Linked DNA regions of Homo sapiens: all the other regions are linked to region 3. The links come from fine-mapping of genetic effects on gene expression. A gene starts in region 3. Each other region holds a variant in brackets. All regions are shown on one strand. Distances are from middle to middle.

Region 1 (8,245 bases), 38 kb before region 3:
CATACGGTATACTTTAAACAGGCGACTTTTATGGTATGTGAATTATGTCTTAATTTTAAAATGGGCCTAATTCTTCACTACTGGAGAAGGAAGAGACAAGTATGGAAAGGGAGAAATCGCTAAGAAACTGGTTCTGAATTGAAATTGGAGATTTGTGCGTGAACTTGTGGCTTTCAATAGACATAGATGGATACATATGGAAATAAAGATAGATTTAAATGTGTGCATGCAAATGTGTGTGTACATTCCTTATCACTGTCCACGGGGGCCTGGGAACAGTGACATCAGAAATGAGCATAGAACTTGGTTTCTAAGTTCCATTCTTGGTTGGGCGCGGTGGCTCATGCCTATAATCCCAGCAATTTGGCAGGCCAAGGCAGGCGGATCACTTGAGGCCAGGAGTTTGAGACCAGCCTGGCCAACATGGCAAAACCTCATTTCTACTACAAATACAAAAAATTAGCCGGGCATGGTGGCGCTCGCCTGTGGTCCCAGCTACTTGCAAGGCTGAGCCAGAAGAATCGCTTGAACCCAGGAGATGGAGGCTGCAGTGAGCCGAGATCGCACCACTGCATTTGAGCCTAGGTGACAGAGTGAGACTCCGTCTCAATAAACAAATAAATAAATAAATAAATAAATAAATTCCATTCTCTACCAAGGATTCTAATAAGGAGTCCAAGGAACCAGGACAACTCAGAAAAATGACTGATTCCAAGGCTAGAGTGGAGACAGTGCATGATGAATCTGAAACATGCTAGAAAGTAAGGAAGTACTCAAAGAATTCCGTCCCACTGTTCAAATCAGAGACAATTTGGTATCAAAATAAGTAATGATAATAATGGATTCAAACTAATGGAATAAAGTAGAAAACCATGAGTCTATACACATGTAAGTCAATAAAATAATACATTGAAAATGTCAGGAGGGGCCAGGCGTGGTGGCTCATGCCTGTAATCCCAGCACTTTGGGAGGCTGAGGCGGTGGATCACCTGAGGTCAGGAGTTTGAGACCAGCCTGACCAACATGGCGAAACCCTGTCTCTACTAAAATACAAAATTAGCCGGGCATGGTGGTGCATGCCTGTAATCCCAGCTACTCAGGAGGCCGAGGCAGGAGAATCACTTGAACCTGGGAGACAGAGGTTGCAGTGAGCCAAGACTGTGCCACTGCACTCCATTCTGGGCAACAAGAGTGAAGCTCCGTCTTAAAAAAAAATTTTTAAATGTCAGGAGGAATAGGGTATTTACGCAGTTTCAAAGTACTTCTCTGCACAATACTTACTAATTACAAAAGAAAAAAAATAACATCATAGTGGAAAAGTCAGGCAGATAGAAACTTAATAATAATGAACATCATAAATAATGGGATGGATCTAAACACTACTCTACCTAGGCCAGGCACAGTGGCTCACGCTTGTAATCCCAGCACTTTGGGAGGGCGAGGCAGGCAGATCAAGACCACCCTGGCCAACACAGTGAAACCCCGTCTCTACTAAAAATACAAAAATTAGCTGGGTGTGGTGGTGGGCACCTGTAATCCCAGCTACTCGGGAGGCTGAGGCAGGAGAATCGCTTGAACCCAGGCGGCAGAGGTTGCAGTGAGCCGAGATCGCACCACTGCACGCCAGCTTGGGCGACAGAGCTAGACTCCACCTCAAAAAAAAAAAAAAATTACTTCTTCTAAGAGGATGCAAGGAGAAGAACTCAACCTTGCTTCTGTGGCATTCCTGCCAATGATGCAAAACCTCAATAAAATCATAAGGAAACATCGGTCAAACCCAAATTGAGGTACTTTCTATAAATTAACTGACATGCCATCTTCAAAAATGTCATGTCCATGCAAGTCAAGGACAAACTGAGGAACTGCTCCAGGTTTAAGGGGAGTCTAGAGAGACTTTACCGCGAAACACAACGTGAGATGCTGAACTGGATTTTTTTTTACTATCAAGGACATTGTTGGGACAGTTGGTGAAACTTGCATGAGGCCTCTGGATTAGATGTTTTTCATGTTAATTTCCTGATTTTTCAGGGTTCCTTGTGGTTGTAAGGAATTGTGGAATATCTGTGTTTGTAGGAACTACATACTCTAGTATTTGGGAGATGTATCAGGCTGGTAACTTATTCTCAAATGGTTCAGGGAAGAAAGTTATGTGTGTTAGTAGTGCACTGAAGTCGGTTATGCTCAACGTCTTTCCAACTCTGCGTGCAGTAACCTCATGTTGGCAGCATGAAATTGCCTGTAGTGGGAGTATTTACACCATGGAAATTGGCAAATGTTACAACTCCAGTCTTTTTTTCCCTCTGGACAGCCAATTGTTAAACATTCACCAGCACACTGTTCTTTGTACCATCTTTCCAGATTTTTAATAAATTTGTGATTGTTTCAAAAAATTATTAACTTGGCCAAGCATGGTGGTTCATGCCTGTAATCCTAGCACTTTGGGAGGCCAAGGCAGGAGGACTGATTGAGGCCAGGAGATCAAGACCAGCTTGGGCAACATAGTGAGACCCTGTCTCTGTTAAAAATATATTAAACTAAAAAAATAGAAGGAAGTTAATAAGTACCACTTTAAACCTTCTTTTGAACAAGGCTTACAATAAATGCATAACAGGCATTTGTGTTTTAACCTATCTCTATGCTTTCAGTTAATATTCTTTTTTTTTTTTTGAGATGGAGTCTTGCTTTATCGCCCAGGCTGGAGCACAGTGGCACAACCTTGGCTCACGCCAACCTCTGCCTCACAGGTTCAAGCCATTCTTCTGCTTCAGCCTCTTGAGTAGCTGGGATTACAGGCACGTGCCACCATGCCTGGCTAATTTTTTGTATTTTTAGTAGAGACAGGGTTTCACCGTGTTGGCCAGCCTGGTCTCCAACTCCTGACCTCAAGTGATACGCCCACCTCGGAGTCCCAAAGTGCTGCGATTACAGGGGTGAGCTACTGCGCCCAGCCCTATTCTTGATAATCCTGTGAAGTCAAAATTATCACACCCCTTGTAGAGACAAGTAAATGGAGACTTGGATAAATTTCCTGGCATATTCCTTGGCATGTAATAGTTGCTCAATAAATGATGGCTGACCATCTCCAAGTGGAAAAGGTAAATCGCATACCCAGAATTTATGACTCTAAACCTCATGTACTTGCTTTTTTAAGATAAACTTTTAAACATTAGTTTTAATCACACAAGTACTGCATGAATATATATTCAATCATAAAATGTAACTCAGTAGGCCAGGTGCAGTGGCTCACGCCTGTAATCCCAGCACTCTGGGAGGCTGAGGCGGGTAGATCATGAGGTCAGGAATTCAAGACCAGCCTGGCCAAGATGATGAAACCCTGTCTCTACTAAAAATTAGCCAGGCATGGTGGCCGGCACCGGTAATCCCAGCTACTCGGGAGGCTGAGGCAGAGAATTGCTTGAACCCGGGAGGCGAAGGTTGCAGTGAGCTGAGATTACTGCACTCCAGCCTGGGTGACAGAGCAAGACTCTGTCTCAACAATAAATAAATAAGTAAATTTAACACAATAGGCCAGGTGCAGTGGCTCATGACTATAATCTCAGCACTTTGAGAGGTTTGAGCTCAAGAGTTTGAGACCAGCCTGGGCAACATGGTGAGACCCTGTCTGTCTTAAAAAAAAAAAATAAATAAATAAAATAAATGCACTGAAGAGAAGCCTAACTTATCCTTTATCACATGTACCCACTTCTCCAACGGCCCAGTCTCAGTCCCCTCTACATGAGCAGTCTTCCTTATCAGTCCAGTGTTCTCCTCCAGGCCTTTTTCTACGCATTTTTGTTTTGCTCTGAACCACACTGATGGCAAGTTCATGGCCAGCTTTGATGATCTGGAGCATTAGCATTTTCCCTGGGAATGAGCTCCACCACCTTCTCCCTTTCTTCTATTCTCAGATTGTTGACCTTGATTTTTCTTCCCTCTTTCATAAAAAACACACAAAGGCATTTCACTGGCAATCGAACCACCCTCTTCTGCACAGAGGCCTCGGGAGATTTATTTCCATCCCAGAGTAAAGTCCTAGGCTGTAGTCTTGGCTCCAGCCTCGGCCCCGTGTTACAGAAAAAAACAAAACAAAACAAAACAAAACAAAACAAAACAAAACAAAACAAAAAACACAGTTGTTCAGTTTTTCCTCGACAGTGACCTCCTACTCTAAAATAAACAACCATGACTGAAAGGGGAGGAAAGAAAGACACAATGTTTTCCAAATGTGATACAGAATTCAAGGGTGAGAGGATGAGAGGGTGAGGGAGTGAGGGGTGGAGCTTGGAATATTTTCCTTTCTTTGTTAATCGTCTGTGGGGACTGTCTTTACTCTATAAAGTCAGCATTACCCATTCATCTCCAAGACATTTGTTTCCTGAAACAGCTGAGTCGGCAACGGAGAGACCTTCCTCCAG[T/C]GAGTGCTGAGACCTAGGTCAGAGCTCATGGTTGGTAGTATCGGCTTTCTGCCAAAAAACATGATTTGCTTGAAAAACGAATGGATCTCTTATTTGTAGTAAGAACACAGAACTAAAATAGGCTGGGTGCTGTGGCTCATGCCTGTAATCCTAGCAGTTTGGGAGGCCGAGACAGGCGAATCGCCTGGGGTCAGGAGACCAAGACCAGCCTGGCCAACATGGTGAAACTCTGTCTCTACTAAAAATACAAAAATCAGCCGGGCGTGGTAGCACATGCCCATAGTCCCAGCTACATGAGAGGCTGAGGCAGGAGAATCACTTGAACCCAGGAGGAGGTGGTTGCTGTGAGCTGAGATTGCGTCACTGCACCCCAGCCTGGGTGAAAGAGCAAGACTCCATCTCCAAAAAAAAAAAATCAAGTAGAACTCAATCTAAACTAACCTTAAATTATACTTTGTTTAAGGAGTGTGAAGAACCTACTACTTATTGAATGCTCTACAATGAGCATACTACTTGTATATTTTACTGAGATATTAAATTGTATTTTTATTCTCGTAATGGCGGTCTCCCCTCCTTCATCCTAAGCAGGTAGCCAGAAGCAGGAGTTTCTAGGACCCCTCAAATCAGAGCCCTCCCCTACCCATGCCTAGGAGCTGGGTTCCCCTCGGTGGCCAGAGTGGGATTGTATGAGAGGGAGCAGGGCTTCAAGGGTTGGAAAAGATGGAACAAGCTGATAAAATCCCTTAGTAGAGAAGGGGGAGAGGAGAAATTTGGGAAAGCTCTCCAGAAAATAGGAAACGTAGAACAGAGAGAAAAGTGGAGCTAGCAGGACCTCTGATGGGGATGATTGTGGGCTGAGCTGAGGGAATTCTGATCCCAGGCACAGAGATCTCTGGCCTGGGCAAAGACTTCCTGTGCTCCAGTTTGGCTCCAAGGCAGCATAAATACCACCTTCAAGGTAGGCTGGGACAATGGTCCAGTGCGGGCTGCTGATGGGAGGGTCTCAGCACAGGCTTCGGAGGACTTTTGCACAACCCTAGAGAAAGTAGTGCCTCCCAAAATGTGACTGAGTTGGGATTTTCCAACAACCAGGGAGGTGGGGCTCATTAGCTGTTACAGAGAATGAGCATTTTCTTATACCTGATGGTGAAGGAATTCAATACACACCCATTATATAAACACCAACTTTGATCCACATAATACTTTTTATGCAACTTTTACTTTCAAATTTTATTTGTATGGGTGTATTCCATTTAATACTTTACAAGAGTCCAATAAAGCCCTTTCACATATAAAACCTCATTTTATCCTCACATCATGCTTTGACAGTGAATACGGTTCATATTGTCTGATTTGCTGAAGCTCAGAGAGAAAGCTGAACCATGAATGGGTCTTTCGTGCCTCTTTCCTGTGTCGTGGGAGCCCTTGGTTGGGCCCCACGTTATCCCATTCAACCCCAAGGTTGGCTACCAGCACTTCTGGCCTTAACCTTTGCCAAAATTTTGACTCTGTAACTCCCATTCCTTTGATCTGCCTTGCCCTGTGCATACGAGGGAAACCTGTGTCTGTTCTCCATGAATACTCCATGCTTGGGTATGATCCTGGTCAATTATAATCTTCTCAATATGAGGACACTCCTTTCTTTGTTTCAACTTGTTCAGATTAAAAAACATAGAATGAGCATCTCCCATGTGTCAGGTATGTGCAAGGCATTCTCATACAGTCCCTCATTACTCTTATGTAAGAGGTATAACTGTGCCTGGTTTTTAGATGTGGAACCTAAGGTTCAGGAAGGTTAAGGAATGCGCCCAACATCACCCAGCTAGGAAGCGGGAGTACAGGGATTCACACCTTCCTTCTCTGAGTCCAAGTCTCTGCTCTGTGCCTAACTCCACTGGGTTGCCTTACACAGTTTCCAGGTTCTCCATTCATTCCAAGTAGAAAATAAGGTCAATGTTAAAAGAAAAGCTATGCTTCATTTCTCTGAATCCCAAGTTGCATGTTGCTATCTGCCGTGACTTAAAGTCACTCCAGGAGTAAGAACTCAGTTTTGACTGTTATCTTAGATACGTTATTAAAACAGCAGCCCTAGGGTTACCAGAAAGGGGTCCGGATCCAGACCCCAAGAGAGGGTTCTTGGATCTTGCGCAAGAAAGAATTCAGGGCGAGTCCGCAGTGGAAAACGAAAGCAAGATTATTAATAAAGTAAAGGAATAAAAGAATGGCTACTCCATAGACAGAGCAGCCCCGAGGGCGGCTGGTTGCCCATTTTTATGGGTTTTTTTTGATGATATACTAAACAAGGGGTGGATTATTCATGCCTCCTCTTTTTAGACTACATAGGGTAACTTCCTGACGTTACCTGGAGTGCCACTGCACTCCAGCCTGGGTGACTGAGTGAGACCCTGTCTTAAATAAATAAAATAAAATAAAAGTTAAAGAAATAGTTTGACCTTAAAGCATTTAGCAAATCTGATGTTTGACCTTAATTTAGACTAAATGTTTATATTTTAAAGACATTTTATTTTACCAGTAATTTTTAAAACTGTCTTTATTTTTAAGATTACTAAAGTCATGTGAACAAAAAGGCATTAAAGTTTCTATTTTTGACAAAATATTTGATTTAAGTGCTTATTTTTTTAACCCAATTAATTAGAGCTTTTTATATATAAACATACAACACATATAAATACACAGACAGACAGAAGATTCAGCACTTGTAAGATTTTTCATTTGCCAGTTTCTTAATTGGATGACTGGCTTCAGGGTGGAGCCCTTGGAAGAACAAGGCTGGGAAAGCTTGGTTTCTAGGGCCAAATAAGCAGCTGAAGGCAAAGACAGAGTCTTAAAATTAAGGATGCCATTTTACACTGGATCCTGGATCCCCAGAAGGAGGGAAATACTGTGGGAGAAGACAGTGCAGTCCTTCTTCTTTGCATTGCACTGCAAGGTAACCCAAAGCCAATTAGCCCATTTTGTAATCAGCCCATCCCTCGTGGGAGTTTTATCTCCCATTGGAGTTGGGAATGTTTCCTTATCTTCCAGGTGGCTAAGAGCATGCTTCTCTGATTTAAGTGTGCAGAGTCAAGTCTCCCTCCGTAACTACTATTAACCATCCCTTAAAGTATATTTCCTATCTGGTTATTATATACCAAAGCTCTTTTATAATGCAAAGTAAATTTTGATTCCCTCAGAACTCAAAACTGTCAGATAACACAATGCAAAACGTAACAGAGCCTTTGATTTTGAGAGGGATCTATCTGCTTTTAATTCCTGGGGTTTCATGAGGAAAACAGAGGCTTTTTTTCCAAAACGGGGTCTGTGGTGCCTCCTCTGTGTTTCCCAAGGAGTCCCAGCTACCAGAAGTTATTTTAAGGCCTTTCATGTGTGCATTAAGAGTGGCAAGAAGGCCGTGTGCAGTGGCTCATGCCTGTAATCCCAGCACTTTGGGAGGCCGAGGCAGGCGGATCACTTGAGGTCGGGAGTTCGAGACCAGCCTGACCAACATAGAGAAACTCCATCTCTACTAAAAATACAAAATTAGCCAGGCGTGGTGGCACATGCTTGTAATCCAAGCTACTCAGGAGGTTGAAGCAGGAGAATCTCTTGAACCCGGGAGGCAGAGCTCACGAAGAGCCGAGATCGTGCCATTGCACTCTAGCCTGGGCAAAAAGAGTGAAATTCTGTCTCAAAAAAAAAAAAGAAAAGTGGCAAGAAAAAAAATGGAGAAAAACGATTTAGTTGATTGAGAAGAAAAAACTTTTTTTCAGTAAAACAAGTTCCAAGAAGAGAAAAACAGAGGGCTTTTAAGTATATTTATAGCTTTTTAA
Region 2 (8,247 bases), 24 kb after region 3:
GTGGCTCACTGGCAAGCTCCGCCTCCCGGGTTCACGCCATTCTTCTGCCTCAGCCTCCCGAGTAGCTGGGACTACAGGGACCCACCGCCACGCCCAGCTAAATTTTTGTGTTTTTAGTGGAGACAGGGTTTCATCGTGTTAGCCAGGATGGTCTCGATCTCCTGACCTCGTGATCCACCCACCTCGGCCTCCCAAAGTGCTGGGATTACAGGCATGAGCCACCACGCCCGGCCAGTATCTTAAAGTTTTGAATTGCATTTTCTTAATAGCTAATGACATTGAACATCTTTTCATGTGGTTTTCGGCCATTTGTATATCTTTGGAAAAATGTCTATTCAAGTCTTTTGCCTATTTTTTAATTGGGTTCTGCCTTTTTGAGTTGTAAGAGTTTTTTAATATATTCTAGATGCTAGATTCTTACCCAGGTATATGATTTGCTGTAATTTTTTTGGTTTGCAGTAGTTTTTTGTTGATTCTCTTGTTTCAGTTACAGAATTATATCATCTACAAAGACAGATTACTTTTTTCTTTTTAATTTTATACTTAAAATTTATTTTGGCTAAATACTTTGGCTGTTACCTCCAAAATATTGTTAAGTAATAATGGGGGGAGTGATTATTGTGTTTCTTCCTTTAGTGGGAATGAAGACATCATTCTGTGGATTTACAGTGGTTATTTAACCATATCCATACTATAAAGCCTTTGGGTGGTTTCCAGTTATTCACCACTATAAGTAACACTGTTAGCACTTTTACCTGAATCTTTTCTCTTTTTTTTTTTTTTTTTTTTTTTTTGAGACAAGGTCTAGCTCTGTTGTCCAGGCTGGAATGCAGTGGTGTGATCTCGGCTCACTGCAACCTCCACCTCCTGGGCTCAAGCCATCCTCCCAGCTCAGCCTCCTGAATAGCTGGGACTACAGGTGCATGCCACCATGTCCAAATAATTCTTTTGTATTTTTTTTGTAGAGACGGGATGTCACTTTGTTGCCCAGGCTGGTTTTGAACTCCTGAGGTCAAGTGACCCACCCCCATCAGCCTCCCAAAGTGCTGGGATTACAGGTGTGAGCCACTGCACCAGGCCCATAAATCTTTTCTCTATTTGATATTATTTCCTTTGGCTAAATTTCAAAACTGTGAAACTACCGGCTCAAAGACTCCTGTAACTTTGTCAAATTCTTAGGGTTTAATTTTATAATAGAATGTTTTGTATTAACATTCTGAGGAATATACTGTACATTGCTGGAGTCCACTATATGTTTACATTCAAAAAATAGAACTGTCTTTGCCCATTTACCTATCTCCCTGCATCAATGGGAAGCAGAAGAAGAAGGTGGTTGAGCATCTACAGAGGGATGATTTTAGCTTTTCTGATTTAAGGCCCAGGTTGTAAAGGTCTCATGGATCCCAAGTGAACTGTTGTTTGTGGCTTTAGGATTTGGATTGACAAGTTTCCCTGGGTGTGGTGGTATGTACCTGAGGTTAGATGAGTCATGCTCATCCGTGACTGTCCAGCTGGGACGGGAGCTTCAGTACCTCTAAGCGTGCTGATGATCAAATAAGGCTTGGGAACCAGAGGGAAGTTGTATGTAGGTTTCTTCAAGACCAGCACCGTTTTTGTGCAAAAGTTCACCAGGTGCGAGTATAGAGGATCGTTTTCTGTTAAGCTCACGGCTCTGAAAATCAGCTGAGGTGACTGTGTGCTGTCAGAGGCAGCAGTCATTTGCCAGTGTTGGCATTTAGACATGGGAGTGCGAATGCCTTTCTTACTGAGCAGTTATTCTGTCTTTTGGGCCTTTCTTTTCAATTCCTCTGTTGTGACTCAAAGTACAATGAGTGGATAAAATGGAGCCTAGTCATTGCTGTTCTCTTAAGGTTGTTTCTAGAAGGTTTTCCCCTATATATATGAATTTTTCCAGATTAGAGTGTCTTGTGTTAAAGATTCTGAACATAGTTTGATTCTCAACATAGTTCCCTGATTATTACTTGTTTCCTTTAGTTTCAGATGCTTCATCAAGATGAATCAAATAAAAGAGAAAAGATCAAGACAAAGGGAATGGACTCTGAAGACGACCTGAGAGATGAAGTAGAGGATGCTGTCCAGAAAGTTTGTAATGCAACTGGATGTTCAGTTAGTATTTCTGTCTTGCAGGAATGATTTAGAAGCAAGCATTGCTGTGCCTAGCTTACTTCTTAGTTTCGTAGCACCTCTCTAGCATATCAGCACCTTGTGGGCCAAAATAGGCCCATGAGATTTGTAGTTTGATTAGTGTATGTGGCTTAATGAGAGCTGTTTATTAATTTCCCTGTTGTTTGCTAGACTTCACCCAGTACTGCTCAAAGGTCTTAGGAAGTATGTGGATTTAATTTTTCCTGACTAGTGTTTACAGTAGTACAAATGCAGTTTTATAGAGGGAATTCATTTATAAGTGTACATTAGACGGTTATTTCAAGGGACCAACCTTATTGGAAATCGACATTTTTCTAAATGGAAAAGGTCCTGAAACCTTGTGTTAATTCTCACTATTACATCTTTATGTTTATGATTATTGAAGTAGAGCTAGGCAGAAAAATATACCCAGAGTTTTGAAGTGGTTTTTTTGTTTGTTTGTTTCTTGGATAGGATTTTAATTTAATAGTCCAGAACCTGGAAGCTGAAAATTATAATATTGAATCTGCAATAATTGCCGTGCTTCGGATGAACCAAGGGAAGAGAAATAGTAAGTCCATGACTAATATTTATAGATCTTCAAAATGGTTGTGTTGGTAATTTTCCAAATATTTATTTTTTAACCAAGTCACAGGTGGTAACTGTTCTGTCATTCATTTAGGAGTTGTTTATTGAGCACGTTCTGTACGTAGACATTTTTTACTAGGTCCTGTCTCTGCTTCAGGGGGAGTATAGTTCAGGGGTAGAGGGTGGATAGTGGAGACAGATAAACTGGTGCGATAGTACATAATGGGGTTGGGAGTACAGGGTGCTGGGGGACGCATCAGGGAAGAATTAGCCTGTTTAGAAATAAGATGGCCTTAGAAGACCAAAATGATAACCAAAATAAAATGGAGAGAGAAATACCTTGTTTTTCTGGTGGAAATATTTAGATTTGTATTAGCTTGTGATAATTTTGATTTTTTTTTTTTAATTTGAACCAAGTATAATTTTGTGACTCAGAGGAAAGAAAAGAGATGTAACGGCTGGGTGTGGTGGCTCACACCTGTAATCCCAGCACTTTGGGAGGCTGAGGCAGGTGGATCACGAGGTCAGGAGTTTGAGACCAGCCTGACGAACATGGTGAAACCCCGTCTCTACTAAAAATACAAAAATTAGCTGGGTGTGGTGGCGGGTGCCTGTAATCCCAGCTACTCAGGAGGCTGAGGCAGGAGAATTGCTTGAACCTGGGAGGTGGTGGTTACAGTGAGCTAAGATCGCACCATTGCACTCCAGCCTGGGCAACAGAGCGAGACTCCCTCTCAAAAAAAAGAGAAAAGGATGTAACATCTTATTAATTTCTCAAGTCATTTATTTAAAATGATATCAATAAATACTGATTGCCAGATGTTACGTGTCAGATACTGTTTCTGGCATCATAGTGCTCCATGTGATGAGGTATTTTATTATCCACTATGTATTGGCTGTACTTTTAGAAATCTGTAAGTAACTTGGTCTTTGTGACTTTAAACAGCACCCTCCAGTGATCTGTGCTGTTCAGTATAGTGTGTACCTGCCACATGAGCAATGAGACTGGAGAGCTACGTTTTAAATGTTGTTTAATTTTAATTTAAATGTAAATGGCCACATATAGCTGGTGGCTAATACATTGGACAGCACAGCTTTAGAGCCTGTTTCTTTTCTGGGTTTTGGGTGCAAATGAAAGATTTTCCCATAAAAATTCATGTTAAGACATAATTTATCTAAAAAGCACTCTGCTGGTTGGAAGCTGATCAAAAGGCTGGTCAGTGGGTTATTTTAGAATTTATCTTCCAACTTTTACCAACTTTTTCTTCCTATGTTTCCCACTGTCTTGACATTCGAATTTGTCTCAAGGAAACTTACTTCCCTTATGACTGAAGTAGGGACCCAGGTAATTTTGGAATCATTAATACAGTCATCACCCTGTGTAACTCTCAGGTTCTCAGTTTTAATGAAATGTCTTTCTTTGGAAGATGCAGAAGAGAATCTTGAGCCCAGTGGTCGAGTGCTGAAGCAGTGTGGCCCTTTGTGGGAGGAGGGTGGCAGTGGTGCCAGAATCTTTGGAAATCAGGGCTTAAATGAAGGCAGGACCGAAAACAATAAGGCACAGGCCAGCCCTAGTGAAGAAAACAAA[G/A]CAAATAAAAACCAGCTCGCAAAGGTATGTAAGATGGGGTTGAATGGGCAGGTGGTGGGCAGGTGTAATTCTGTGGCAGTGGTGGTAGCTTGAGATTAATTTTATTTGTATTTTCCTTCTGATTTATAAAAGTAGTGTGGAAAATCTGGGGAATGCATAAAGCTACATCAAGAAGCAGAATGACCTCACTTATCCTGTTTGGTGTATGCCGTGACAGTTGGAAGGAAATACACCCTGAAATTGTCCTCAGTGTACAAATGAAAAGCCTCCTTTTCCCACCTAACATTACTGTACATGTGGGCTCTTCCCATGTTTATCCATGTTTTTTATAAATGCCATGATCTGCAATGAACACCTTTGTGTATAAATCTTTGGTTTTTGCATTATTTTCTTGAATAAAGTCCCAGAAGAGGAATGAACAGGTTAAAGGTCATGGATACATGAATCTTTTAAAGGCTTTTGGTAAATTGTCACGTGCTTCCCAGAAAGGTACATCTCCCTCCCTGCCCTTCACTCCCACAAGTAGTATGTGACATCTTCCATTTTACTGAATTTGGAATCATTTTAAAGATTTTCACCAAGAAGTTCTGAGCTCAAAATGCCACAGTGTAAAAAGCCACAGCAGAGGCAGAGATGCAATAAGCTTCTGAGGATTTTGTCAGAATTACCTGGGGCATTAAATTATGTGGGGAAAAATGTTCTCTGACACGTTTGTTTGTTACCAACTCTTGCTGGATGAGGGCTGGTTTCTTTAAGAGAAGAATGGAATTGATTTTGTTTGCTAGTTCAGCAAGGAAATATAAATTTAAATGCAAATTTGAGCAGCAGTGGACAGTAAATCATCTTTGGCGTCTTAGATTGGTTTTCCCTGTTCCTGCTGAAAAGCAATCTGTGCCCTTTGCCACCATCTCCCTTCTAGCAGGTGGCAGCTTGAGTCCCCCGTGCTTCCTACTCACCACCATGGCCTTCTCTCTCAGGTCACAAACAAACAGAGGCGAGAACAGCAGTGGATGGAGAAGAAGAAGCGGCAGGAGGAGAGGCACCGCCACAAAGCCCTGGAGAGCAGAGGTAGCCACAGGGACAATAACAGAAGCGAAGCAGAGGCGAACACGCAGGTCACCTTGGTGAAGACCTTCGCCGCTCTCAACATCTGACTCTTTGGCCTCTTGGGAGTTGTAAGAAGCGGCTGGAAAAGGATTGCTGTGTGCTAGACTTTCCAGTGAGGCCGTCCTTTTATAAAACGCAACACAACCAACGAAGCCCACACATGAGCTCACACACTGAGTTAGTTTCGTTCAAGCTGCCTCTTTTTTTGTTCGAAGTTTTATTAGTGATATGTTGGTGTTTTATGAAAATGCAGTGAGGCCATTCATATTCTGTAATACAAAATTAAAATACTGAGTTTTAGGGGCAGATAGTTAGGTCAGGAAAAACCTTTTAAGTGGTGGCTTTATTTGCCCTGAAAATCAGACTTCAGTGACCCTAGGATCTTTCCTTAACATTTGGGGTGAGTTTTGCTGTAATTGTTCATGAGTAGTTTAGAATAATTGTTAGAAATTCAGAATGACAAGTTTCCTTAGTTTCTCTTTCATTCTCAAACAGATATATAGGGTAGCTTATAAATGATCTCCAACTCAGGAATATGCTTTGATTTACTTCTAATCCAAGTTACTCAGAAAATAATTCAGGAATTGTTTTCCCAAAGTTACGTGAGGGTTGTGGCCTGCAGTCAGGATGGAAATTAACCGCATTTCTCTCCTTCCTGATTCTGATGTTATTTCAGATGGGATGCAGGTGCTGTTAGTTCATTTGCACTCAAGCCATATGATAAATGCAGCTGACTGTTAATTAGGCCTGGCCTTGTTGGGAAGTTGATAGTGGTGTTGGGTTTTTGGTATTTGTTTCCTGACAGTGGGGAGATGGCATGTTACTGCTTGTGATACAGTTCTGGAATTCTGATAGTGTGTAGAGCAGGGTCTATAGTTGTAACAGGAGACGAACTCCTGGGGTTTTGCCTAAGAGGAGTCTAAAGAATTATGTTTTTATAGGAGAAGCCTGGAAGAATAAGGTTTTTCATGTTCGCATTTTAAATAACGATTTTCTTCCCTTCTGTTGTAGACTTAGATGCCTTCAGAGAGATACGTGGTAACTTGACCTTATAGGTCGCTAAACTTAGTATTGTGGAAATTAAATCTTATAAAATGCTACATTTATTTCTTTTTATTTAAGCCCTGTTTGGCATTTCAAAGTTGGGAAAACTCCAGCATCTGCTGGAAGTTGTTGGACCAGCAGGGTTGGTTGACTTAGGTTGGACCAGCAGAGAAGAGAACATACTTTGGTTGAGGCCTTCGAATCACTCTTCAGTTCTGAAATAGACAGACTTGAGCAGTGGAGAGACGTCTTTCCTAAAACTGAGTTAGGTGGATGTGAACTTAAGAACTATAACGTATGAGGCAGCCCATCTTGGATCATCTTTGTCTTTTGGGACCTAATACTTGGGCAAATAATTGATGCTGAGTTGAAAGGTAAATTATTAGTTATCTTCCCCACCCCTCGCATTTCAGAATTATAAAAATTCGGAGGCAAATTGAAAACTAAAATGTTTGGTAGGCCCTGGAGTCGCCAGATTGTCTTTATCACCAGGCCTTTGGCTTTCTTCAGTTTCACTGGTATCTTTTGGTTTTGTTTTTGACTTTGGTGGCTTTTTGTAGTTGGAGCATCAGTAGTCTCTTGGAATTGCTCCTAGGACATTGTGGTTTAGGTTTCTTCCTGGGTACAGTACATTGTAAAATTTAGCAGATTAAAAAAAGTACACAGCATTTTTTTTCTGTGCACGTCGCAGAGTCCTGAGCTTGAGGCTGTGTTACTCTACTCATTCCAAACGAATGAAAGATCTCTGTTGCCTTACTCTAAGGAAGTGGGATCGAGTGCGTTAGGATCTATGGTTGTCTTGGTTTTCAACTCTGGGCAGATTCCTGACTGGCTGAGTGTTTCTGAATGAAGATGTTTTCCTGTCTGTTTTGTACTGCTTGAGTGCAGAGGCCAGATCCTCTCAGAAAGATAAGATTGTATGCCAGAAATTCAGATTAGCAGTCAGCTTAAGAGAGACTTATTGTCAGAAGTAGTAGAATTGCTTTATTTACTTGGTTAATGAAGGTGGCCTTGGGCCCTATTGGGTTTTAGAAGTTTTAGAAGCTGCTAAAAAGTTATTAAAGAATATTGGGAACATTTATTTTTTAAATTACCTAATTCTGGTAATAGGCTTCAGCATTTCTGGAGTATAATAATGGTGGTTTAAAAAACTAATCAAACGGCTTTAGTAATTTTACTACTGGTTTCACAGCTTTTCAGTTACAGTTGGTCTGTTTAGTGTGTTAATTATTAGGAATCGGGTACATGCATCCAACTTCAGTGATACCTTCTAGCTAATGGTTTCAATTTAGACTTCACTGCCTCAGTCTCACTGGGTACATGAGAAGGTTGGAATCAACATGCTTAGTTGCCTCAGTGGGCACTTGAAAATTCCTTCACTGGCAGCCCGAGTGGAGGCCCAGTATGTCTAGTCCTGGGATGACTGTTGTCAGCAGCTGTTACTCTAGTACAGGTGCTCCTGTGAACTCTTTATTAGGAACTGAATGTGTCTTAACCTCTGTGTTACATCTTGGCTGGCAGAGATTTATGTTACATGAGATTGTCTTGGTAGCTTGTAGTGTGGTCAGGAGAAAGGGGATGGAGCAGTGGTGCATAGCTGCTTACTGCTCTTATAAACGGTATATAAAGGTTTTACGGATTTTGAAAATATTTTTTTTTAGAGGTCAAAATAAATACCATTTTAGTGGCAACAGCTTTGAACTAGAGAGGTAGATGTATTAAAGCAGCATAGAACCATAACTTCTAGATAATGTAGTTGCCACTAGGAGATATTA
Region 3 (8,000 bases):
ACTGCCAACACTTGGACATACCTTCTAGTGCACGTGCATGTAATTTGCTTTAGGACTATCTGCGTCTGAGAGTGTACTTTTGAAGGAGCTACATTGTCCGGAGTATATACCCTGGGGTTCATCGTCTTGCACGAGGAAAATTTAGAATACGGATACACACGAGGAGTTTAGGAGGAGATGTAATATTTCTATTTTTAGGATAGATCACGAGATGTAGACACTAGACATTTAAAATGTTACCAGATACAGGCCAGGTGCAGTGGTTCATGCCTCTAATCCCAGCACAGTAAGAGGCTGAGGCACGCGGATCACCTGAGATCAGGAGTTCGAGACCAGACTGGCCAACATGGTGAAACCTCGCCTCTACTAAAAATACAAAAAAAAAAAAAAAAAAATTAGCTGGGCATGGTGGTGTGTGCCTGTATTCCCAGCTGCTCTGGAGGCTGAAGCAGGAGAATCTCTGACAATCTCTTCAGCCCGGGAGGCAGAGGTTGCAGTAAGCCGAGATCATACCACGGCACTCCAGCCTGGGCAACAGAACAAGACTCCATCTCAAAACAAACAAACAAACAAAAAAACAAAAAAAACCCCAAAGTTACCAGATACAGTCCAAATTGCCCTCCAAAGTGGCTAGATAAATTTACCTCCCAACAGCAGTGTGCGAGAGTTCTCATTTTCCCATACCCTTGATGGTATGTTCTTGAAAGTCCTAAAGCTGCATTTCTTCACTAAAATTCTGTTAGTCACACTTTTTACTAATTTATACTGCCATCCAATGAGGTTTGATTACTATTATTATTATTTTTGAGACAGGGTCTTGCTCTGTCACCTAGGCTGGAGTGCAGTGGCACAGTCATACCTCACTGCAGCCTCAAACTCCCAGGTTCAAGTGATCCTCCAACTTCAGCCCCTCCCGAATAGCTGGGACTACAGGCATGCATCACCATGCCCAGCTAATTAAAATTTTTTTGCAGAGATGGGGAATCTCACTTTGTTGCCCAGGCAGATCTTGAACTCCTGGGCTCAAGCAATACCCCCACTTTGGCCTCCCAAAGTCCTGGGATTACAGGCATGAGCCACTGTGCGGGTCAATGATTCTTTTAATTAACTCTAGCGAAGTGGGCAGAGCATTCATTTTATTTACAAGTACTATACTCCTTCCCTTTGGCCTTTAAATATAATTTATAGGCAGCATTGATTTGCACTTAGAGACACTGTCTAACACAGGTCTCCGCTGAGAAGAGAAATTCGCCCATTCAAAATCTGTGTGTGGGCTAAAGGCTAAGGGCTTATGCCAGAAAAGATTTTTTGTTTGTGTTTTTGTTTTTGTTTTGAGAAGGAGTTTCACTCTTGTTGCCCAGACTGGAGTGCAATGGCGCAATCTCGGCTCACTGCAACCTTTGCCTCCCGGGTTCAAGCGATTCTCCTGCCTCAGCCTCCCCAGTAGCTGGGATTACAGGCTGGCCTCGAACTCCTCACCTCAGGTGATCCGCCCGCCTCCACCTCCCAAAGTGTTGGGATTACAAGCGTGAGCCACACGCCCAGCCAAAAAGATTTTTACAAGACGGGCAAGTGTTCGCTTTTCTATCAATATGTTAGCAGTCTGTATTTACTTATTTGCTGGTGAGAAACCTTTCTTCCCTGGTTTCTAAAGTTTGAAAGTCTTTGCCCCTGAGCTCATGAGATTTCCAGAGAACTGATTCAAACAACTTCATTAAATAGGTACTTACTTCATGCCTGGGGCTTTACATTTTTATTTAATCTTTACAACTCTCTTTTGCATTCTTATTGTCATCAGAAAAATGCAAATCAAAATCACGATGAAATACCATCTCATGCCAGTTAGAATGGCTTTTGTTAAAAAGAAAAAATAGCAGATGTTGCTGAGGCTGTGGGGAAAAGGGGAACATTTTTACACTGTTGGTGGGAATGTAAATTAGTTCAGCCACTGTGGAGAGCAGTTTGGAGATTTCTCAAAGAACTAAAAATTGAACTACCACTCGACCCAGCAATCTCATTACTGGGTCTATACTCAAAGGAATATATATCGTTCTATCAAAAAGACAGATGCACCCGTATGTTCACTGCAGCACTATTCACAATAGCAAAGACATAGAATCAACCCAGGTACGCATCAACAGTGGATTAGATAAAGAAAATGTGGTATATATACACCATGGAATACTATGCAGCCATAAAAAAGAACAAAATCATGTCCAGGAAGAGGGGAGAACAGCAACATGGATACAGCTGGAAACCATTATCCTAAGTGAACTAAGGCAGAAACAGAAAACCAAATACTGCACGTTCTTATAAGTGGGAGCTAAACATTGGATACACATGGACACAAAGATGGGAACAATAGACTCTGGGGAATACAAGAGTCGGGAGGCAGTTGGGGGAAAGGGTTGAAAAACTACCTATTGTGTATTGTGTACTTTGCTCACTACCTGGGTGACAGATTCATTTGTACTCCAAACCTCAGCCTCACGCAATATAGATGGGGTTTCACCATCTTGGCCAGCTGGCCAGGCTGGTCTCGAACTCCTGACCTCAGGCGATCCCCTGGCCTCGGCTTCCCAAAGTGTTGGGATTACAGGCGTGGGCCACTGCACCTGGCCTCAGTTTTTGTTTTTGTTTTTTTGTTTGTTTGTTTTTTGAGATGGAGTCTCGCTCTGTCCCCCAGGCTGGAGTGCAGTGGTGCAATCTCGGCTCACTGCAAGCTCCGCTTCCCGGGTTCATGCCATTCTCCTGCCTCAGCCTCCCGAGTAGCTGGGACTACAGGCGCCCGCCACCACGCCCGGCTAATTTTTGTATTTTTAGTAGAGACGGGGTTTCACAGTGTTAGCCAGGATGGTCTCCATCTCCTGACTTTGTGGTCAGCCCGCCTCGGCCTCCCAAAGTGCTGGGATTACAGGTGTGAGCCATCACGCCCAGCCTGGTCTGTCTCAGTTTTAAAACGGAAAGTCCTGCATCCCAAGAAAACCTCTAGTCCAGGCAAACCTAGGTGGGTCGCTCTAGGATGGAATTAGGATTTCCAGTGGTCTTGGACAGAAGGGCGACCTCTCCCTTGAGTTACGAAGGAAGGCGGAGAGATGAAGGGCAGGATTAAATAAACAAGTATGCGGGCTTTGGAGCCAGGGCAAAGCTCTGCCTTTTAGCTGTGTGATCTTGAAATTATTTAACCACTCAGATTCAGTTTCCTGTAATTTGGGGATAATTAAACAAGAATGAGCCGTGTGAAAGTGCCTATCCAACTGTAGTAGGCTCGCAGCAAGAGTTTAAATCGTTTTTATTCATCTCCGGTCCTAACTTTTGCCGCTGCTCTGTGTTCCACTCTTCTATCATCTTTAATTTCTCTGCTTGACTTGTTCCTGCTTTGTTCTCTCTGGTCCCTCTCCGGTCGCTCCTGCCACTCACGTTGAGTACCATCCACCACTAGAGGGCGGAATAGAACAAACCAAGATGGGTGCCCCTCCAGCTCTCTATGGCGTCTGCTCGCCGAGCCCCGCAAAAGAGGCGGGGATTCCATCATGTGACCGGGGTGCTGGGCGCCGGCGCAGGCGCGGTTGCTGCGTAGTCGTCGCCGGGCTCCGTTGCCCGCGCTGTTTTACCTTCCCAACGCTTGAGGCGGACGCTGGGGGGTCCTGCGCCTTTCCCTCCTGCCGCTGGGGACTGCAGGCTAAGGCCATGTCCCGAAAGCAGGCGGCGAAGAGCCGGCCGGGCAGCGGCAGCCGGAAAGCCGAGGCCGAGCGCAAGCGGGACGAGCGGGCGGCGCGCCGGGCCCTGGCCAAGGAGCGGCGGAATCGGCCGGAGTCTGGCGGCGGCGGCGGCTGCGAGGAGGAGTTCGTCAGCTTCGCCAACCAGCTGCAGGCCCTGGGGCTGAAGCTGCGGGAGGTGCCGGGGGACGGGTGAGGCGGGCCGGGAGCGAGGGAGGCGGCGCCGGGGGACGCGCCGGGCTCGGCCTGGCGACCGTTGCCCGCTCGCGTCCATCCATCCATTCATTCGGGCGGCCCGGGCGCCTCCCGCGAGCCAGCCACGCTCCGAGTGCAGGGCGTCCAGCTGCGAGTGAGGCGGACAAGCCCCTCGCCCCGAGACGCTCGCGGGGATCCCAAAGGGTCCTAATCATGGCAGACGCCGCGAGCGAAATAGAAAGTGGGTGCTGAGACCGTATATGGGAGCAGGGCCACTGGATTGTGGCCAGGAAGGGCTCTCTCAAAGGTGACATTTAAGCTGAGTTCTGAAGGAATGAGATGGAGCCAGGCATTGGAAAAACAGTTATCATGACGATAAGACCAGTTGAAGGAGTTTGAGTAAGCCCCACTTGGTAGAACGCTTTGCCTCCTTTGAGTCCTTGGTTTTTGGGTGGTGCCCCCATTTACATTTGTGAAATTAGGTCGCCTGTTTACTGAGCTGAAGGCAGCTTCTCTAATTCTTCCTTCCATGGGCCTCAGTTTCTCTGTAAGCAAAGGTGCTTCCCCAAGCTTTCTTGGGACTTAGACTGGATCCAGGTCCAGCTTTCTTTAGGGAACGCGGAGGGGGAGAGTGGGGAGGAGGAAGAAAATTAGCTTCAAGAAAGGGGATATGGCTCCAGGAACATGGATGGAAGAAGGAAAAGGGTCAGGAAGAGGGGAGAACAGTTAGGATCCCCATTGCAGGGGCAGGTAAAAAGGGGTCTGGTTGTCAGCTGTGTCACTTTGGAAGAGAGAGTGTTAATAACAGCCTGGCTTTTGTTTTTTTCCTCCCCGTATTTGAGTGCTCAGATCCTGCAGAGGGAAGACTAAAATGAAATTAAAGACCATAAGGAATTGCCTTAGTTCATTATTATTGTTATTTTGTAGAGACGGTGATTTTGCTGTGTTGCCCAGGCTGGTCTCGAACTCCTGGCTTCAAGCGATCCTCCTGCCTCGGCCTCCCAAAGTGCCTAGATTACAGGCATGAGCTACCACCCCCGGCCAGGAATTGCCTTAGATATTAACTGCAGAATAAGGTGTTTTAAAAATTTTCACATTACATTGCAGCTTATTGATTAAGACTGTGAACTGGTCCTAATTTCCCTTTCCCACCGTTCCTGTTTATGCTCATTGCTTCAGGCAGATTGGATTTCTTTTTGCTCACAAAGAGTTCACCACACTTTGCTGCGTTGCTGTTTTTGCTTAAGATGCAGTTGGAACTTGATTACATTTATTCACCATCATCTGGCAAAGTGCTTGGTACATGGAAGGCAGTCAGTACGTTTTTGCTGAATGAAATATAAAAATAATAGAGGGAGGTCAGCTAGCCTAAGCATAAGCCCAAGACACCCTTATAGAAACAGAAATACCAATTGAATACAGTGGAATTGGCGTGGGACATTGGGGCTTTTCCTTGCAAATGATTGGATTGCTTGTGTCTGCTATACTGGGTATGGTATTCTCAATGTCAGGGTGCCCAGGAAACTGAAGTACTCAATAGAAGGTTACTTATGAGGAGGAATTAGCACAGGGAGTTGTAAACTCTTGAGGGGGCTTTCATAAGGTTATGGGAAACTTTGGGGGTACTACTTCTGCTCCCTATCCCCACACCCCCATACACACACAGCATACTTTTCAAGTTAATTCAGCACACCTTAAGTAGGGTGCTGGGAATATGTTGATGACTAAGATACTTAAGGACTTCATAGCCTAAGGTAGAAACACGTAACAGTGGGTCTCAGCTTTTTTGGTCTTAAGATCTCTTGGCATTCTTAAAAATTACTGAGAAACCGAAAGAACTTTATATGGGTTATAGCTATGAGTATTTACTGTATTAGAAAGTAAAACAAAGTTAAAACACAAGAATACACACACATTCCATTAGCTATCAGAGTGATGACTTCATGCATCAGGTAGCCTCTGGAAAACTCCACTGCACTTGTGAGAGAATGAGAATGAAAAAGGTACATTACATCTTAGTTTTGAACTCACGGATACCCTGAAAGCATATCAGAGACCTTCCCACATCTCCGGTCCCTTGAGTCACACTTTGAGAACAGATGATACAAATAATTAAAATATAGTTTGATATATTTTTAGTAACAGTGACTGATTATAATGGTACTATTGAGAAGGAAAAGGCTACTACTCTATGAATTGGCCAGGAAGTCCTTCTCGTTCATTCGGTAAATACTCATTGGATACACTGCTAGATGCCTCTCAGAGGGTGTCATGCTCTGATTGGGTCATGAAGGACCAATAGGAGTACACCAAGAGAACGGTCCCATCTGAGAAGGAGTATATATAGAGGCACAAGGACACGATGTTTTTGGGAGATCTACAGGTTGTTTAGGGTGACGGGTAGTGTAGGGCACAAGGGTAGAAGTAACGGGCAGTGAAGCTAGGCTCCAGAAACCAGCTTGACTGGAGTGCTCATGTCTCTCTTCCAAGGTTCCTGTTATTCGGACAGTGTTAGATAAAATGATCGTATTTCCTCTTGTGTGGGCTTCATGGAGCTAACCACCTTCTGTTCACAAGTTCTTCACATGAGTTCCATTAGCTGGACTGTGGTTCAGCCCTCGTCAGTATCCTAGTCCTTTCGAATGTGGTGATGACAGACTTTATCACTGCAGGGGATGGTGTTTCCTGTGTATGTGATGGGTTGGCAGGTGTCAACAGATTCTTCTACCCCCCTCAGACGGAGTCTTACTCTGCCACCCAGGCTGGAGTGCAGTGGCACAATCTTGGCTCACTGCAATCTCTGCCTCCTGGGTTCAAACAATTCTCTTGCCTCAGCCTCCTGAGTAGCTGGGATTACAGGCACCTGCTACCACAGCCAGCTAATTTGTTTGTATTTTTAGTAGAGATGGGGTTTCACCATGTTGGCCAGGCTGGTCTCGAACTCCTGACCTCATGATCCATCCGCCTTGGCCTCCCAAAGTGGTGGAATTACAGGTGTGAGCCACCGCGCCTGGACAACGGATTCTTTTATTAATGTTTATTAAGGACTCAGGTGAAATATAATGAAGTTAAAGACTATTAAAAAATAGTTGACATCTCTAGCGTTCCCTGTTTTCATTCAGATTTGATTACAATCTGGAGTAGCCTGATACAGTATCTATGAGCATGTTCATTGTTGGCAATATGGTACCTGTAGCATTCTGGAACCTGAGGGGGTTTAGGGATGAATTAACCAATATCCTGTAATACAGCCTTTACATGGGTTGAGTCAGCTTAGTGTAGATTAATCAGGGAGCTACTTAGAGGGTTTTGTAATGCTTCCTGGACCAGCTTCATATTTCACGTGTTGTCTGGAAGGTGGACCCACATAAATTGGATTCATTTTTCAAAGCAAGAAAGAAATAGTTTAACCTTGATGTTTTCCTTAAAAACATGATTGGCTATAGTGTGAAAAGAATGTATAACTCTATTTATTAGGCAGTACAATATTAACATCCCTCTGAACTTATCTAGTTGGGTCTTACTAAATGTAGTTCTGAGTTACATTACTCATTAGCAGTGTTCTAAAATTGAAACATTGAAGAATCACTAATTTTAGCTGTTTATCTTATTACTAACAAGTAGTTTATTTTTTAGTTTTGTTTTTAATATTGCAGGATCACAGTAGTAGAAGGGCATTCACACATCATCTTGTCTAATTATTGCCTGTGTCACCTGAACAGCAGTGCCATCTTTTGTGCCTCACTCAGTGGTTTTCAGTTGGGTGCCATACTAGAATATCTGGGGAGGAACTTTTGAAACAATTCAGGGCCTGGGCTCTCCCCTAGATCAACTACATCAGAATCTTAGAGTGGGGCCTGGTTATTGATGTTTTTTAAAAAAAAATTTACAGATGATTCTTATATGCATCCATAATTGAGAGTGACTGATTTAGAGTCTAGATGCTCAACTAGTGTTTCTCAAACTTCAGTATGCAACATAACCACCTGGACTGCTAGTGAAAACACCTGGAAGGGCTACGTTGCTGGGCCCCAACCCCAGAATGCCTGATTGAGTAGGCCTGGGTGGGCCCCAGCATTTTCATTT

What was found.
Region 1: its variant is fine-mapped to the expression of OTUD3 in whole blood (INTERVAL, PIP 0.96).
Region 2: its variant is fine-mapped to the expression of OTUD3 in tibial nerve (GTEx, PIP above 0.99). The same link has a PIP of 0.9 or more in visceral fat and whole blood.

The regions. Positions count from the first base shown.
Region 1 is chr1:19,840,976-19,849,220 of GRCh38, forward strand. No RefSeq gene overlaps it. Among named protein-coding and RNA genes, the nearest start is that of RNF186, 30 kb to the left of the region's middle. The variant T/C (reference allele first, on the strand shown) is at 4,416.
Region 2 is chr1:19,902,272-19,910,518 of GRCh38, forward strand. OTUD3 (OTU deubiquitinase 3) reads left to right here. Exons shown (of 8, transcript NM_015207.2): 5 at 1,996-2,127; 6 at 2,620-2,716; 7 at 4,161-4,345; 8 at 5,299-8,247. The coding sequence ends at 5,475. Among named protein-coding and RNA genes, the nearest start is that of PLA2G2E, 17 kb to the right of the region's middle. The variant G/A (reference allele first, on the strand shown) is at 4,322.
Region 3 is chr1:19,878,824-19,886,823 of GRCh38, forward strand. It overlaps OTUD3 (OTU deubiquitinase 3), which reads left to right and starts at 3,572. Exons shown (of 8, transcript NM_015207.2): 1 at 3,572-3,911. The coding sequence starts at 3,691. The region is part of intron 1 of LOC105376823 (a long non-coding RNA gene); the gene reads right to left. RefSeq lists an enhancer at 3,356-3,405 and a silencer at 3,776-4,115.